Regions from separate parts of the Homo sapiens genome. Here region 2 is linked to region 1. The links come from fine-mapping of genetic effects on gene expression. Tissue or cell type: whole blood. Region 1 holds a variant in brackets; the other region holds the start of a gene. All regions are shown on one strand. Distances are from middle to middle.

Region 1 (8,311 bases):
ATTCATTAAAAACAAAATAATTTTATAGTTAAGCAAGAAAGTGATTGTACTATAACAAGGGAGACTTATTTCACCATAGGAAAAAAATCATAACATTCTAAGAATAGAAGGAAAAAATAACAATTACCCAAGCCTGCAACAACCTGTAAGACCAGATCAGCTTTTAAGAGGAAAGTTAATTAGATAACAGGAAGAGGTAAAAATGAGATCATCAGAGATGGGGGAAAAGGCAAATTTAGAAATTCTGAATTTAATAGGGGAGACAAGTATGTAGGAATATAAACACATTGTGCTTTCTCTGCACAAACACATTCACATGAGGATGTATACACAACCCTTGCAGGCACAGGTACTCAGTGAATGCCTGCGTGCCAAGGAGGGGGACAGCACTGAGCAGGAGAGGTGGCAGGGCCTGGTGGCCCAGGAGCACTCATATAGTCAGGAGACTGATATAAAAGAAAGATCCTGCTAACATGCCATTACAGAGTATGGAATGAGCAAGGAAGGAAGAGGGTGAGGCTGTAAGAGAGTGCACAGGCCCTCATTTAAATGGACGGGTCACCAGCCAGTACTTCATGCCTGTTCCTAGATGACCCACAAAGTGAAACGAAACTGGATGTGGTATTTAGCAAGTCTGAGATTTGCTGGTTTAAGTACTAAGTTAGCAAACCAGCCTTGGCAGCCAGAGCAGGTAGGGTAGGGGGCCCAAGGAGATGGGTGTATCCAGGAGGCCAATGGAGGAAGGAGAGGAAGGTTTTCTGGGAAGCCAGCTGACATGTCATGCTTTGTCAGTGGGGCCTCTGCATGGATTCCCTCCACTCCCCCCCAGCCCCCAACTCACTACGGGGAGCTGCAAAATGACAGACAATGGGTGGTTTTGTACCCAGCAGCCACTCCTCAACCAGTGAGGAATGGGAGAGAGATAAGAAGGTGGGAAACAAGGATTGCTTGTCACCATCCCTGCTCCTCCTGAAGCCCTGCGCTGGGAGCAGGTACAGAACCCGCTGAAGGTCACCTAATCATTTCACCATGGAGTTCTTCCCCAGATGTGAAACTGCTGGGACTGGAGCAAAGGGTGCCCAGAGCTGACTGGAGGAGGAAGCCAGAGCCACACTGGAACATATGGAGATGCTAGCTCCTGCCTGCTATTGAGGAACTTCATTTTCCCAGAAGAATTAGAGGACCACAGGAGTGCTTGGGAAGAAGCAATTGTGGCAACCTAGGTGAATGATGACCTAGGAGGTGAAATGAGGAAGGAGGCCTTTGGTCTCTGCCAACCATACATTTCAGGTTGCCTTTTGCTAAAGTCCTGCTGATGTTAATCATTCTCTCCAGCAGATCGCGGCTTGAATCATGGGGTCTGAAATGTGGGTTTATGAGAGAAAAACAACATGGAAAAATTGGGCAGAGGCTGGTAAATGTGAACATTCAAACCTGCCCCCAATCTGAGATGGTGGGACAGTGGACCCCTGGCCAGCTCTCCAGGTGTTGCGTATGCACATTGGCAAACCACCTTTATTAGGTGGTGTGACACCTGGGTAGCAATTCTCAAGCAATGTGATGATCTGAATGTCCCTGGGCCTGACCCAGGTGAGGAGGACACAAAATCATGCAATATGTCTCATAGAGCTTAGTCAGTTTTGAGAAATACTGGACTAATGTTATGTTTTTAAAGCACCTAATTCTTTTTCTCTTTTCTGTTTTATCTAGGCACTGGGAAATCATGAATTTGATAATGGTGTGGAAGGACTGATCGAGCCACTCCTCAAAGAGGCCAAATTTCCAATTCTGAGTGCAAACATTAAAGCAAAGGGGCCACTAGCATCTCAAATATCAGGACTTTATTTGCCATATAAAGTTCTTCCTGTTGGTGATGAAGTTGTGGGAATCGTTGGATACACTTCCAAAGAAACCCCTTTTCTCTCAAATCCAGGTATTTTCTACTTTTATAGCACTCAATGCTTGAAAATAGATGCCCTAAATCACAGCTTGGCATTATATTTATGGACTGTAGATAAAAGTAGGAACAACTGGGTAAATAGTGCACTAGAATAACACTGATAAAAGCAATCTGGTAAATTCTATGCTGTTGTTCCAAGGTACTTCTTAAAGAGATGTCCTCTTCTGCTCAGTGAACTTCTTTGTTGACAAAAACAGTATCTTTGTCTAATTCAGTGCTTTCAAAATGGGAAGAGGAGACAATGTATAGCCAGTGCTAAACAGTACAGTTTCATTTACTAGAGAATGAGAGCCTCAAAACTCACTGCCCTTCTCCTGTGGAGCCATGAGCACAGAGCCAGAGTTTTACCTCAATTTACCTTATTGCTCCTTTTCTAGGATGATTATTACATGTCCAGCTAACTCACCTTTCTCGCTTTTCATTATTCATCTCGTTTTAATGACATTCTTGTATCTGACTTTCTGGGAAATATATATAGTGGTCTTATGATATATATGGATATATATAAGTGTATGTATATACATTTATAGACATATATACACATATGTATATATAATATATATAATCTTAAGACACACACATACATATATGACACATATACATACATACATATAAGACACACACACATATATAATCTTAAGACCCTTCAAGAAACTATTTTGAGGCACTTTTATAAGAAAACTTTTTGGAATATTTTGGCAATGAGAACAAAAATGACATTTTCTTTAAATTATCCAAATTAAATGTGTTTCCATATTTGAAGAAAAAAAGGGAAAATAGGAGCCAGGGTTATCTAGAAACATGAGTTTTCATTAAGAACTAACTGATAAAGGACATATAATTGACAATTCAAAAATATATATTTACTGTTGTTGTTGTTATAAAATAAATAAGTCCAGGCCATTGGAAACAACAACAGAAAAGTCAGCTGTGTTTGCTGAGAGCAGCAAGCGGGTCCTGCAGCTGGCATAGAGGCAGAGCTGGAGGCAGGGTGGAGCGGCTGGGGCTGGAGTGGTCAGTGAGAAGAGTGAGAGAACTTGCTAAAGAACCCCCCAACCCCACCCTGGGGTCAGGTTTACTTGCTGAAGAACCTCCTTGGTCCCCTTGAGAGCTGTGTAAAACATCCCTGGGGCACAGGACATTCCAGAAGTGAGGTCAGAGTCACAAGCTAGGATGCAGGCTCCATGAGGACAGAAACCTCTGCTGTCTCACTATTGCCCAATGACTGTGCACAGTGCCTGGCATATGATAAGTCCTCAGGAAGCATTGCTGGGATGAATACATGAGAGCAGGAAGGTATAGGGGCCACAGTCACAGAACAGCAGATAGTTCCATTTCCTGGAGCATGGGTTCTGACTAGGAAAAGCTAGAAAGTTGGATCAGGGCTAGATTGTAGGGCTGAGAAGTTCAGGTGTGATTTGGAGGAAAGCATTGTCTCTTCTTTAAAAGGCACCCATAAGGAGGTAGGAGGTGCAGGTCTTGGTGGAAAGGCACAGCAGCTCCAGAAATCAAACTGCCCCAGCTGGGACTCTGACCAGCCCTTTACCAGGCTGTAACAGAGAGGGGATCAAAAGTGACACTGCTGTTTCCAGCAGCTGCTGGAAGAGAGGGCTGCATTTTGCAGGGCCCAGTGTGGGGGGAAAGGGATGGGGTGGAATAGAATGTTTCCAGGAGCACTGCTTCTTCCAAGACTACAGGCCCAGCGGCCTGGTGTGGGTTCTTCCTACAGTTCTTTGACCCTAATCAAGCCCAGTTCTCCCAGTCCTAGTGGCCTGGGCACCCACAGGGTTATAACCTGTATTTCTAGCACATTTAATCTAATTTATTTTAGCTAGATCATTAAATACCTGAAATACAACTCTCCTCATGACATCTTGAAATATAAGCCATGCTTTGTATATATGGGATGCCTGGTCCTGTGAGGTTTCTGATATAATAGAGGAATACATTCCTTTGTCCTCAGAGGCATTTCTCTGAATTTTTTTTCCTTCTTGGCAGCCATACCTTAAGCAAAAGATGGTAGCATACTCTCGACATTTAGTCATTCCCCTGGGTACCTGTCTGTGTGCCAGGCACTGTTTTAGGCACCAGGGATACTGACCAAAAAAAAAAAAGTTGCCCACTGGAGCTTACATATTCAGTGGGGGAATCAATAAATGAGTAAATGGTTTGGTATGTCAGAAGGTGCTAAGGCTGTGGAGAAGAATTAAGCAGGAGGGGAATGGCAAGTGCAGCAGGGGGGAAGGTATACCTTGTTGTTTCAAAGAGATGCTCAAGGAAAGGCTCACATAGAAGGCAACATAGCACTGAGGGTCAACGGGGAGCCCTGGGCTTCTTGGGGCAACCAACAGGAAGCAGATTGTCCTTGATGTTCTCATAATAGACAACAGTGGCAAAACTACAACTCTTGATTTTTCAACATTGCCTATGAGTTACAGACAGCCTTGCCTGTCCAACACATCTGTGAGCTGCTAATTATTAGGTTGTCATTCTGGGGCCTCCCTGGCTATGATGTCAGCCATGAATTATCTTCCATGGTAATTTGCACTTGTGGAGTTGGCTAATGTTAAGGATTCAGGAGTTCCCCTGCTGAAGCACACAGACATTCCTAAACCTCACAGTGGAACAAGGGATGCATTTCTAATAATCTTGTTACTCTTTGGATTAGTACTTTTCAAACTGGAGTTTGCAGACTCCTGCATTTTGAAAGCTTTTAATGAAATGTCATTCTCCCACCCTCCTTCCCTTGTTTAGTGTTAGTTCTTAGAAATCAGTGTAAGAACGTCTGGATCTACTGGAGGACTCCCTAGTCACAGAGTACCAGACATGACTTCAGGGCAGCATGTCTGTATTTGCAGTCATCTTCATGCCAGTGATAGCCATAAAACCTCAAAGCTTCCTCAAATGTGGCTAACAGAGCCAGTTGGAGGAACCAGTTGCCTTGCTGCACACAGAGAACCTGGGTTGCACAGTGAGAGCCATGCTTGACTACTGATAACAAAAGGCTATCGTTTGTTACCACTATGTGCAGTAATAAGCACCCAGGGAAGAATGTACACAATCCCAGTGCCAGCAACATTTAGATGAGGCCCT[C/T]ATGATTAACACAGAGCTCAATAATGCTCTAATGCTGGCATTATTTATATATTTATATATTTTTTGAGGCAGAGTCTTGCTCTTGTTGCCCAGGCTGGAGTGCAGTGGTATGGTCTCGGCTCATTGCAGCCTCCGCCTGGCAGGTTCAAGACATTCTCCTGCCTCAGCCTTCCAAGTACCTGGCATGTGCCTCCACGCCTGAATAATTTTTGTATTTTTAGTAGAGACAGGGTTTCGCCATTTTGCCTGGGCTGGTCTCAAACTCCTGGCATCAAGTGATCTGCCTGCTGCAGCCTCCCAAAGTACTGAGATTACAAGCGTGAGCCACTGTGCCTGGCCTGCTGGCATTAAAGAGAACATGACAAAGTTATCAACTGCCATATTAAAATAGGCATTCAAGGACTACTTGCTGACAGTTTTAAGTTTGAACACTGATTATCCCAAGTTTCCAACGAACGTCTTGGAGTTGCTAATACTCTTTTGTGTATCATGCTTACGTGCTTAGGCATTTTCTGCATTGGTATTGTGGAAGTTGAGATGTACAAATATATAAAACAATATCTGAAGCCTCCTCACAGTTTGCAACCAAGTTCAAGCAAAACAATATCCACAACCTTAAACTAATACAACATAAAGTGAATGTAATGAGGATATTGATTTGAATTTTTATTTACTTCTTAGGGGTTTTGTATTTAATGAATAAATATGTTTTGGTTTTACTGACTCTTGAGCTTTAGTAAATTAAGGTGTTTAACCTTTGCATGTTAATATGTATATTAAGTAATATAATAAAAATTGTTAATAAATATCCATTTTATTTATTTTGTTCCTTAGGGACAAATTTAGTGTTTGAAGATGAAATCACTGCATTACAACCTGAAGTAGATAAGTTAAAAACTCTAAATGTGAACAAAATTATTGCACTGGGACATTCGGGTTTTGAAATGGATAAACTCATCGCTCAGAAAGTGAGGGGTGTGGACGTCGTGGTGGGAGGACACTCCAACACATTTCTTTACACAGGTAATTGTTTCAAAAGGATTGCATGGGCCAGGATGTCCAGATAAGCACTGTGTCTCTTTTGCCTTTGTAACTGTTATTACTCTTTTTACTGCTATTTAATATGTAATGTATATTATATGATCTATAATATATATGTAATATACATTAAATGGGAACATGTGCAAATCTTACAAACATTACTAAGAATTTATTGATTTCATGATTATAAGTCAATTCCATATATTTATGTATATAATAAATATATAAGACATAAAATATGTATAAAACATATATATACCATACATATGAAAAACAAAAAGACTATTGAGCCCCAACCAAGTCATTTATGATAGATTCTTATCAAAAAGCAACATGTCATATAAAAACTTTAAGCATAAACAAAATAATGTAAATAAGGACCTTTATAACTCAAGGTGGATTTGATTTGTAGGTTGCACAGGTAGCAGAGGCTGGACCTCGAGTGTGAGTCCTAACTCTGCTGCAGACTAGGAATATAAGTATCCTGGAAGCCACATGACCCTGGGTCCTCAGGAGAGCATGCACTCTTCCTACCCACTACCTGACTACCCCCACCACTCTCTTTTTTTCTCTCTCAAATTGGTGTTAAGTAGTTTTCATCAGAATAACTCTTTTATGATTTTTCCACTTTAAACCTATAATGTCCCAAAACTTTTGAATCTGGTTCCACCTTTCCCACTTCCCCCACCTTGCACTGCATAGATCTTTGAAGTATTCCCAAGGAAAGGAAGAAGAGGCTGGTAAACAGTTCTTCTATCAGCATTCGCAAAGAAGGCTTTGGCGTGGGAACAGCCCTCCCCTTGAAGAGGCTCCTGCTTCTACCATCCTTATGTGGGCTGTCAAAGACCATGCTATTTTGATAAAAGCGAAACTCAAAATACCCCAAACAATAAGTAGGAAATACCCAAAAACATTAAAAGGGATTATCACTAAGAAAGTAATTTTTATTTTCTTTCTAGTACTTTGGAGTATTTTCAAATAATGAATGCATGTTACTTTTGCAATCGGAAAGCAAAATATAAATTATAAAAAGGAAAGAAACACAATATTGGGTCAAAAGTCCCCATTCCTAATTCACTTGAATGACTTTGAGCAGGTCACTTAGCACCTCTGAATCTGCTAGCTTAGCTTCAAAATAGGGGATGATCATGCTCAAAGTTCCACGTTACTGTGAAAATTATATGAGATGTAAAAATATGTGAAAGCAGTTTATAAACTATAAATAGCTATATTCTGGTATGCAGCGTCATGGAGGTTGCCTGCTTATAAAAATATGTCAGTCAAAATCATAACTCACAAACTAAAGTTGGCCTTCACTTAAGAAAATACCAGTATGAATGTGTGCTAATTAAATTCCTTCACAGATATTTTACTTCTTGGTAAACACAGGCTAAGGAATAATTTCAAACTGAGTTAAACTGACAGGTTGTGAAATCAATTTATGGGTTATGACCAGTAGTAGGGCTTTTTTTTTTGACAGATAAGACTAAAATAGATTAGGCACTTACATTACTCATAAGAATGATAAATATTGTTCCATGGGAAAAGATGTATATAAGATGTCAAGAACAGCCCCAGGCACATAGCAGACAATCCATAAATGTGATGAGGATGACGACTAGCACTGGACATTGTTAGCATGGATAACATTGCAATCAAAGAGTTTCAACAACTCCATGAGGGTTAAATGAACTAAGAGAGCCAAGACGAGGAAATAATTGGAGCAGGTCACTGGGAAGCACTGGGTAGGGGTGAAGACTCAACAAAGTCCTTCTGACTCTACCACTAATGGTGGGGTCCTTTCAATGCCTGATTACCCTCATCTGTGGAATGAAGGTGATAACAACAGTACCTATTATAAGGGGTCACTGTGATTTAATATGTGTAATGAATGTATAGGTAAATGGCCTTAGCACAGGGCCTAGTATGTTAGCTGTTCTTATTTTAGTTATGTGCTGGCTCACTGGATAAGACCTGTGAAAACCCAAACCTTAGCTTTTCACTGAGGCAGTGTCAGCACCCTTGGACACACAGTGGGAGCTAGATATGTCTCCTCCCCCTTCTTCCTTTAGAATAATGGTTTCAAAAAGTTTAAACTATGACCCGTAGTAAGAAGAACATTTTAGACAGGGAGCCAAAACACACAAACATATATGTGTGTGTGCGTTCACATACGAACATGCAAAAGCACTTGTATGTGCAAACACATACAAGTGA
Region 2 (8,311 bases), 210 kb after region 1:
TAAACCTGGAATGTCCTAATCCTGAAAGGCCACAGGGTTCAACTCTTGGACTTTTTTCTCTATTGGTGATCTCATCTAATCTTATGGCTTTAAATATGCCTTCCATATGTTAACTCCCAATTTTATTTTAGTCAGACCTCTCCTCTGAACTGTGGACCTCTATATCTAACTGCCTACTCAAAAATCCCAATTTGAATAACATGTGCTATTTAAACTTAACATGTTCAAAATCAAGCCAACAATAGAATATTTTTGGGAGTGATGGATATAGTCATTATCTTGATTATGTTGATGGTTTCATGAGTATATTCCTATGAAAAACCCATCAAATTGTATACTTTTTAAATGTACACATTTTTGTACATCAGTTATATTCACTACAGGAGGCAAGGACAAAAGTTTCCTGATCTCAGTGAAGTAATGCATATTTGTAAATTATTGCCTTCAAATGATACATTTTTTGCATATTCTGAAGTGCCTTTTCCATTGCTCTTTTGAAGTGAACTATAATAAATGAAGTAACAAGAAAGATAAAGTTCTCAAATAGGTTGGACTGGACTGTACTTGATTTGGGATTCTGATTAAACCCTCATTAACTCTGACAAACTCAGCTATATGGCATGCTGAGACCTCAGCAGTGGAATAGTAGTACCAGGAGGAGACCAGGACTCATGAGAGTAAGACAAGGAGTCTGGTTCTCATACTGAAAATGTATCCTCTTCTGCCCCAAGATGCTCTCTACAAGATGTTACTCTACAGGATGGAGTAAGATCAGAGGCAGTGGCAATATTCAGACAGTTAAGTCATGTATACTAATATATACCTATAACTAAGTACTATAAGTATTGTTTGGATCCAGAACCAAGCTTTTGAAAAGGCAGGAAGGAGGGTCCCACTCCTATTAAAGGACTGGCAAAAGATAAGCAGGTTATTCTAGTAGGCTGATTCAAACAAAGGCTCTAATCCCAACTGGGGAACTGTTAGAAAAACCATGAAAACAGCTGAAAGCTCTTTCATATACACAGGGCAGTGAGGATTGATGTTAGTTCACAGGACACTTGACTGGGGAGCCAAGCACAGTGGATATTGGGTTTCTGGCAATAGAACTAATTTTAGAAAGCACCAAATGGTAGGTTTGAGCTTACTGTATTTTAAGATTACCTGGAAGCCTGGTGTAAGGCAGAGGAAAAATTCCTGTTGGCTGAAGTCACTAAAGTCAGACACGTAAATTATCTTTCAACTTCTGAAACCAATCAGAATCAAGCATATCCCAGTCTATTATAGTCAAGCTCCTTAAGGATTTTTTTTTTTTTTAGCCTGGTCTGTTGCCCAGGATAGAAGACAGAGGTGCAATCATGGCTGATTGTAGCTTCAACCTCCTAGGTTCAAGTGATCCTCCTATCTCAGCCTCCCGAGTAGCTGGAACAAGCGCATGTTACCACACCCAGTTTTACTTATTTATAGAGATGACAACTTGCTGTTTCCAGGCTGGTCTCTTCCTGGGCTCAAGCAGAGTGCTGGGATTACAGGCATGAGTCACTGCACCTGGTCCCAAGCAGCAGCTATGCTCTGGAGGGTAAACTTAGGAAACTGATCTTAACCAATATCGCCTGAGATTTTAGGAGGCTATGACAGACTAACAGCCTCCTGTGTGATTAGAAATTGCCATCAAGGAGTCAGTAATTGAAACTGAACTTTCAAGTTCAATTCCATTCAAATTAAACCTTTTTGGATCTGACTCTCATTACAGGAATAGTCTTACATTTGTAACTTCCTTGCTCAAGAATCTTAAGGGTATTTATAACATCAGTTTTCTGTCCTACACCTATCCACCCTGTTGGTACCCAAATCCTCAATATTTGTCTCAGACTCTGAACCATACTGTCTTTGCTCAGTTATTTCTTAGGCCTATTGTCCCAACATCTGTGCTGGTTTAGACTCAAATCCACTTGTTCTATTTTCAAGAATCCTTCATAGCTTGACTTTTCCTTGGCATCTTGTGCCACTGTTGACAAAACGGTTTTATTTCAGGAGTCTTGGCAGAGCCTAGCACAAGCCAGTGCATATAAATGTGGAGTACTAATTTCGATAGATAATGTGACATATTAAAAAATCTATTGGGAGGCAAGGGAGGTAGAAGGAGCTACAGGAAAAGCGGTCAGAGGGCTCCAAAGCAACCAGTCTATTTCACAACTTTGTCTTGTTTGCCAGCTTTAACAAAACGGTAATGGCACTCTTCCTTGAAAACTGGAATCTCAATAGTCTTTTACCACATACTGTATAACAGTGCCTGGCCCTATTCTAGGCACTCTTGAACTAATGAAACACAGATCTTAAAATTTTATGCAGAAGTTGTGGGAGGGGGAGAAAGACAATGATTAACAGAGTTTTAAGTACGGTAGGTAAGGGCATCAGAGATCAAGGGTATAAACATAAACACAAGCAATGCTTTCAACTGCCATCTTACACACACTACCTTCATAGTGAAGGTACATTTTCTATCTCCAAACGTTACATGCCTAAGGCTTCTCTCTCATTTTATTTGGTAGTATCAGATAGCATTATGTAACCCATCCTGCCAAATGACCTCTTCCTAGATTTTAGCAAGCCTGAATGTCTTTACCAGATTGTTTTATCAGTAACCTTCCCTCATGACCATACTTAATAAACTGCTATTATTATTCTATTGTGCTCCTTATTTTCTGTATCTCATTCCCCCATTTCTCAACTTAAGCATCCAGGCTTTCAAAATTATAGTTACATCAAAACTAAATATTCCATGATTTGCTTAGTAACAATTACTTCTAATTCCTGTCTCTCCACTCTTACACTGATCCAAAAACCCTTACATTGTACCCTGCACAAACCCGAAACATTCACTCACAGTAATTTGATTACAAGGCTGGTTAGTGGATTTTCCATTTAATGCTCCCCATGTTATTTCAGGACCTATTTAAAAGTAATAACAAAAAGGAACATAATCCAAAATTACATGTTTTATTTTCATGTTTGTAAAACGAAGAGCTTTTTTCTGGATGGTTTTCTTATCAGCTTTTCACACAACAGTCAAGTAAACCTCGTGGCACTAGCCCTAGAAAAGGAAAAACACGAGATTCTTACAAGACTACAAACATTACAACATATGTAAAAGCATTAAAAGTATTAAAAAAAAATATTGTCCTTATAACGGTCCATCTCAGAAGCCAGATCCGTAAAAGTTTTTTTTTTTCAACAGAAGTTCAGGTTCGGGATAAGATCATCACAGATAAGACCAAGGACACAATATTCACTGATCTCTAAGCAAACAGAAAAACTCCACTTACAGAAATCGTTGCAACTTTGGAACTTCCAAGACAATCTGGCCTCTATCAATGGGCAGACAGCGACCCTCACTGTTGGCAGAAAAAAAAAAAACCCAGGATTTTATAACACAACTGTTATAAAATCACGGCAACAAAATTTACTCCACCTCTGAATTACTGGTCTTAATCTCAGAAGCCGAATCCGTACTTATTTTTCTTCAGGTTATCAGCTTCGGGATAGGTTTCATCATTGATTAGACCAATCAGACCTTGTATATGTACACATAATACATTAAACTGCACTTCTGTGACACTGACTACAAACCAAGGTAATGCTAAAAGGCAAGTATTATAGTACAAATACTACAGAACTTTTAAGCCATACAACCTACTTCAAAATGAAGCTGCTAGTCAGTCACATTCGACATTCATTATCTTCACTGGCTACTCGTCCACACTCAGAACGCTGTTCACTGACAAAAAAAATTTGATTTAGTCTAGGTGTGGATTAAATGCTATGCTCAATCATAAAGTACTAAAACAACACATACCTGTTAAAAGTGTCAGGTTTTAACCAAGCGATTTTCCATTAAATATTCTCCCAGATGTTCTGGAAGTTTTTTCGTGTATCTAACAAAAAAAAGTAAATTTCAAACGATGCAACAGTTCCTATTCCTGTAAATCAACAGGTTTACTCCTTTAGTTTGGAAACTAAGCTTAACTAAGCTCTTACCTTTGCATCTTCAGAGCTGCTCCACTGTGCCACTGAAGACAGCGCCATTGTTCCTGCGGGAAATCGGTATTTAAGCATTCTCGCAGAAATGTCACACTCCAAGGCGTTTTTCCACACAAAACCCTTCCCCTTCATTAATCCGAATTGCACACAACGCCGCCTTCGAACAGCTCAGTTTCAATACAGGGTCGAGGCTTCCCATTTTAAAACAACGCCGACGGAAGGCCTTCGCCATTTTAGTAAAGGCCCTTTGCTGTTAAAACTAACCCTCCGCCCCAATTAAGGTGGTTTTTCCGCCGCCGCTCAGGCACATGCCGGAGGCCAGCAAGTTCGGCGCCCGTGGCCGATCAGCGGTTCCTCACGCCAAAACTCGGAGCCTGTGGCCGTCACGACTCAACCTCAGTACATGTGGCAGTCCGGCCGCACGTTTCCCACGTGCAAGCTTTCAACTCTCAGCACTCTAAACTCTTCACTAAGATGTCTTCACAGGATTAAAGCTCTTAACTCGGCCTGCGCCACCATCTTTTGCTCGGATACTAGCCCGCAATACCCACTCACCTACCACCCGCCCAGACGCTCGCGAAGGCCGACGTAAAAGACCGAAGTGCGCAGCCAGTAGCTCCTTATATAGCCTCCCGGAGTCAGAACGAGGCCGTCCCGCCCTCTCGCACCTATTGGACATGGAAGTAGACAGGGGTGTGGTCGCGAATTAGCGGGAGCGCGCGCGGTGGCTCTTCTGAGGCCCGTTCCGCGTTGTGGAGCGCGCCGCAGGCCGGCCGCGCGCCCGGCCATTTCCCGGCGCGCGCCCGCAGGCGCACTGCGAAGCGTCTCTTACGAGTCTGGCGGCCGACTTGGCCCTACGTGGCGCGGGTGTGGCGCCAGAATTCAAACAGCTGCAGTTGGAAACGACGCTTTCGCCTGCCACGAGCCAAGTCCGTCCAGGACAGATTGGGTCCGAGAGTGGACACAAGTTTTGCAGCGCAGGGCGGCCTCAGCTTAGGACCGATTCGAGAAGCTGGGCTGGCTGGCTGGCTGGCGCTGGGCTGTAGTGGGCCCCCAGCGGAGGCCGCCGGAGGAGCGGGCGAGCCCTGGCCGCAGCACTCCGGGAAAGGGCAGTTGGCTGGCAGAAACGCTTGGGTGAAAAAGCGGAAAGCGCCACGTGAGAACAGCCCCGGCGTGCGGCCCTGCAGGGCCTCAGGGCGGGCATCAAGGCCCCATGGGGATCCATTCCTCCTCACGCTTCCTCGTGCCAGGCATCCGGTTACACTAAACGTGACCATACAAGTCTCCCTCAAACAGCGAACGTGAGGTTCAATACTCCATTTCGCAGAGGAGAAAACTGAGGCTTAAAACAGCCAGGTAATTTGCCTAAGGTCACACAGCTGAAATGCTTTGCTAATTTTTAACTTCTTTGTACTCAATTAGTTATATTGAAAACGAGAGAAAGATTAATTTGAGAAGTATCCCTGAATACTTTATCCAGACGACAAACACAAAATTCAAAAGCAGTGCTTTGATTAATTAGCATGTTCGAGTGAATATGTCTGCGTGTGTGTGTGTGCACACGACATTTGAACATTTCAGTATTTGAAAATTCAGGTCGTTCTTCACTTCTATATTTCAAAGCACTACTTATTAAAGTTGTTTATGTGTGCATTTGATTACGGTCCGATTCTGCTAGAGTGTGGGAGCAACACATCTGATTTCGTGCTCTGCTGTTTATTTTTTCTTAGAACAGTGCCTAGCATTAAGTAGGTTGTCGGTAATGGTTAAATGAATGAATGAATGAACAAATACATTCGGTGGCTTTTTAGAAAATTAGAATGAAGATCAAACTTCACATTCAAAGATAGTAGTGAAAAGCACTTTTCTCTAACAGGAACCTATATGATGAAGTATTGACTGGGCCGGGCATTTTGTCGGTTTTTGTATTACTTTGTAATGTCTTACATAAATTTGCATATTGCTCATAGTAAATAGTAAAACAAACAATACAGTACAAAAGGATATAAGAAGCAAAGTAGGCCGGGTGTGGTGGCTTATGTCTGTAATTAGAGCACTTTTGGAGGCTGAGGTGGGAGGATTGAGCCCAAGACCCTGTCTCTATTGTATTAAAAAAATTTTTAAAAAGAGTTAACAAAAAAAGCAAAGTGAAAGTATCTTTCCACATGCCTGGGAATCTTCTCCCTAGTTGTACTCTTCAGCAATACCACTGTTAACAGTTTTTGAGACTTCCTATGCAAATGCAAATATATGTACTTCGTTTTTCACATACAAATGGGATCTATATGTTCTGCAACTTGTTTGTCCGTCTTGTAAATATCATAAACATCTTTCCATATCAGTACATATAGATGACTTTTTTTTTCCAGACAAGGTCTCACTTTGTGACCCAGGCTGGAGTGCAGTGGCTCTATCTCTGTTCACTGCAATCTCGGGATCAAGTGATCCTTCTGCCTCAGCCCACCAACCATGTGGGACTACAAGCACGCGCCATCACGCCCTGTAATTTTTCTGTATTTTTCGTAGAGATAGAGTTTCTGCCATTCTGAAGACCACAAACATCACCTGGTCAAAAGCCATATAAAACAGTGATTCCTTACCCTGACTTACCAGTTAAAATCTGGTAAGTTAAAAAATATCAAATTTCTGGGCCCGAACCTGGAACCTTGAAAGCATAATGTTCAAAAGTGGGACCCAAAAATCCACATTTTAAACAAGCATTAGAGGCAATACTGTCCAATTGGAATATAATATGAACCACAAATGCAAGCTACACACGTAATTAAAAATGTACTAGTAGCCATATATATATATATATATATTTTTTTTTTTTTTTTTTTTTTTGAGAGTCTCACTCTGTCACCCAGGCTGGAGTGCAGTGGCTCGATTTCGGTTCACTGCAAGCTCTGCCTCCCGGGTTCACGCCATTCTCCTGCCTCAGCCTCCTGAGTAACTGGGACTACAGGCGCCCGCCACCACGCCCGGCTAATTTTTTTTTTTTGCATTTTTAGTAGAGTCGGGGTTTCACCATGTTAACCAGGATGGTCTCGATATCCTGACCTCGTAGTCCGCCCGCCTCGGCCTCCCAAAGTGTTGAGATTACAGGCGTGAACCACCACGCCAGGCCACACATTTTTAAAATGTAAAAAGGATCAGATGGGCCGGGCGTGGTGGTTCATGCCTGTAAGCCCAGCACTTTGGGAAGCCAAAACGGGTGGATTGCTTGAGCTCAGGAATTTGGGACCAGCCTGGGCAACATGGCAAAACTCTGTCTCTACAAAAAAAAAAATCAAAAATAAAAAATTAGCCGGGTGTGGTGGCTGAGGTGAGAACATAGCTTGAGCCCAGGAGGCAGAGGTTGCAGTGAGCTTGTGCACTGAGATTGTGCCTCTGCCTTCCAGCCTTGGTAACAGAGCCAGACCCTGTCTCAAAAAAAAAAAAAAAAGAAAAAAGGAAAGAAAAATGAAATTAGTTCTAATCTATTTTATTTAACCCAAATATAATCAAAGTTTTTTATTTTGACATAGAAACAATGTAAAAATCATTGAAATATTTTCCATTTGTTTTTTGTATGCAGTAAATGAAATCAGGTGTGTATTTTTTACTTACATCTCAATTTGGTCTGTACATTTATTACTTTTTAACTTTTAGGTTCGCGGACACATGCACAGGTTTGCTATATATAGGTAAACTCGTATCACAGGGATTTTTTTATACAGATTATTTTGTCACCCACGTATTATGCCTAGTACCCAGTAGTTATTTTTTCTGCTCCCTTCCATCCTCCAACCCTCCACCCTCAAGGAGGCCCTAGTGTCTGTAGTTCCCTTTTTTGTATTCATGAGTTCCCATCATTTAGCTCCCACTTATAAGTGAGAACACGCAGTATTTGGTTTTCTATTCCTGGATTAGTTTGCTAAGGATGATGGCTGCAGGTCCATCCATGTTCCTGCAAAAGACATGATCTCATTCTTTTTTATGGCTGTATAGTATTCCATGGTATATATGTACCACATTTTCTTTATTCAATCTGTCATTGATGGGCATTTAGGTTGATTTCATATCTTTGCTATTGTGGATAGTGCTGCAATGAACATTTACGTGCATGCGTGGTCTGTACTTTTCAAGTGCTCAGTTGTCACATGTGGCTGGCCGCTGCATTGGACAGCACACGTGTAGGGTGATTCATATAGATGTTTGAGAACCACAGTCTTAGGGTAAGAGAGGTACTACATATGTGATATACAGTCCAATCCTTTTTTAAAAAAAACCT

The links. PIP is the estimated chance that this variant, and not a neighbour inherited with it, causes the effect.
Region 2: SNHG5 starts here. The variant in region 1 is fine-mapped to the expression of SNHG5 in whole blood (INTERVAL, PIP above 0.99).

The regions. Positions count from the first base shown.
Region 1 is chr6:85,465,350-85,473,660 of GRCh38, forward strand. It overlaps NT5E (5'-nucleotidase ecto), which reads left to right. Exons shown (of 9, transcript NM_002526.4): 2 at 1,711-1,933; 3 at 5,888-6,076. Among named protein-coding and RNA genes, the nearest start is that of NT5E, 19 kb to the left of the region's middle. RefSeq lists an enhancer at 395-484. The variant C/T (reference allele first, on the strand shown) is at 5,054.
Region 2 is chr6:85,674,101-85,682,411 of GRCh38, forward strand. SNHG5 (small nucleolar RNA host gene 5) reads right to left here and starts at 4,633. Exons shown (of 6, transcript NR_003038.2): 1 at 4,594-4,633; 2 at 4,036-4,088; 3 at 3,854-3,932; 4 at 3,695-3,775; 5 at 3,324-3,392; 6 at 2,907-3,091. It overlaps SNORD50A (small nucleolar RNA, C/D box 50A), which reads right to left and starts at 3,268; the gene lies at 3,194-3,268. SNORD50B (small nucleolar RNA, C/D box 50B) reads right to left here and starts at 3,559; the gene lies at 3,489-3,559. RefSeq lists enhancers at 4,214-4,273, 4,444-4,603.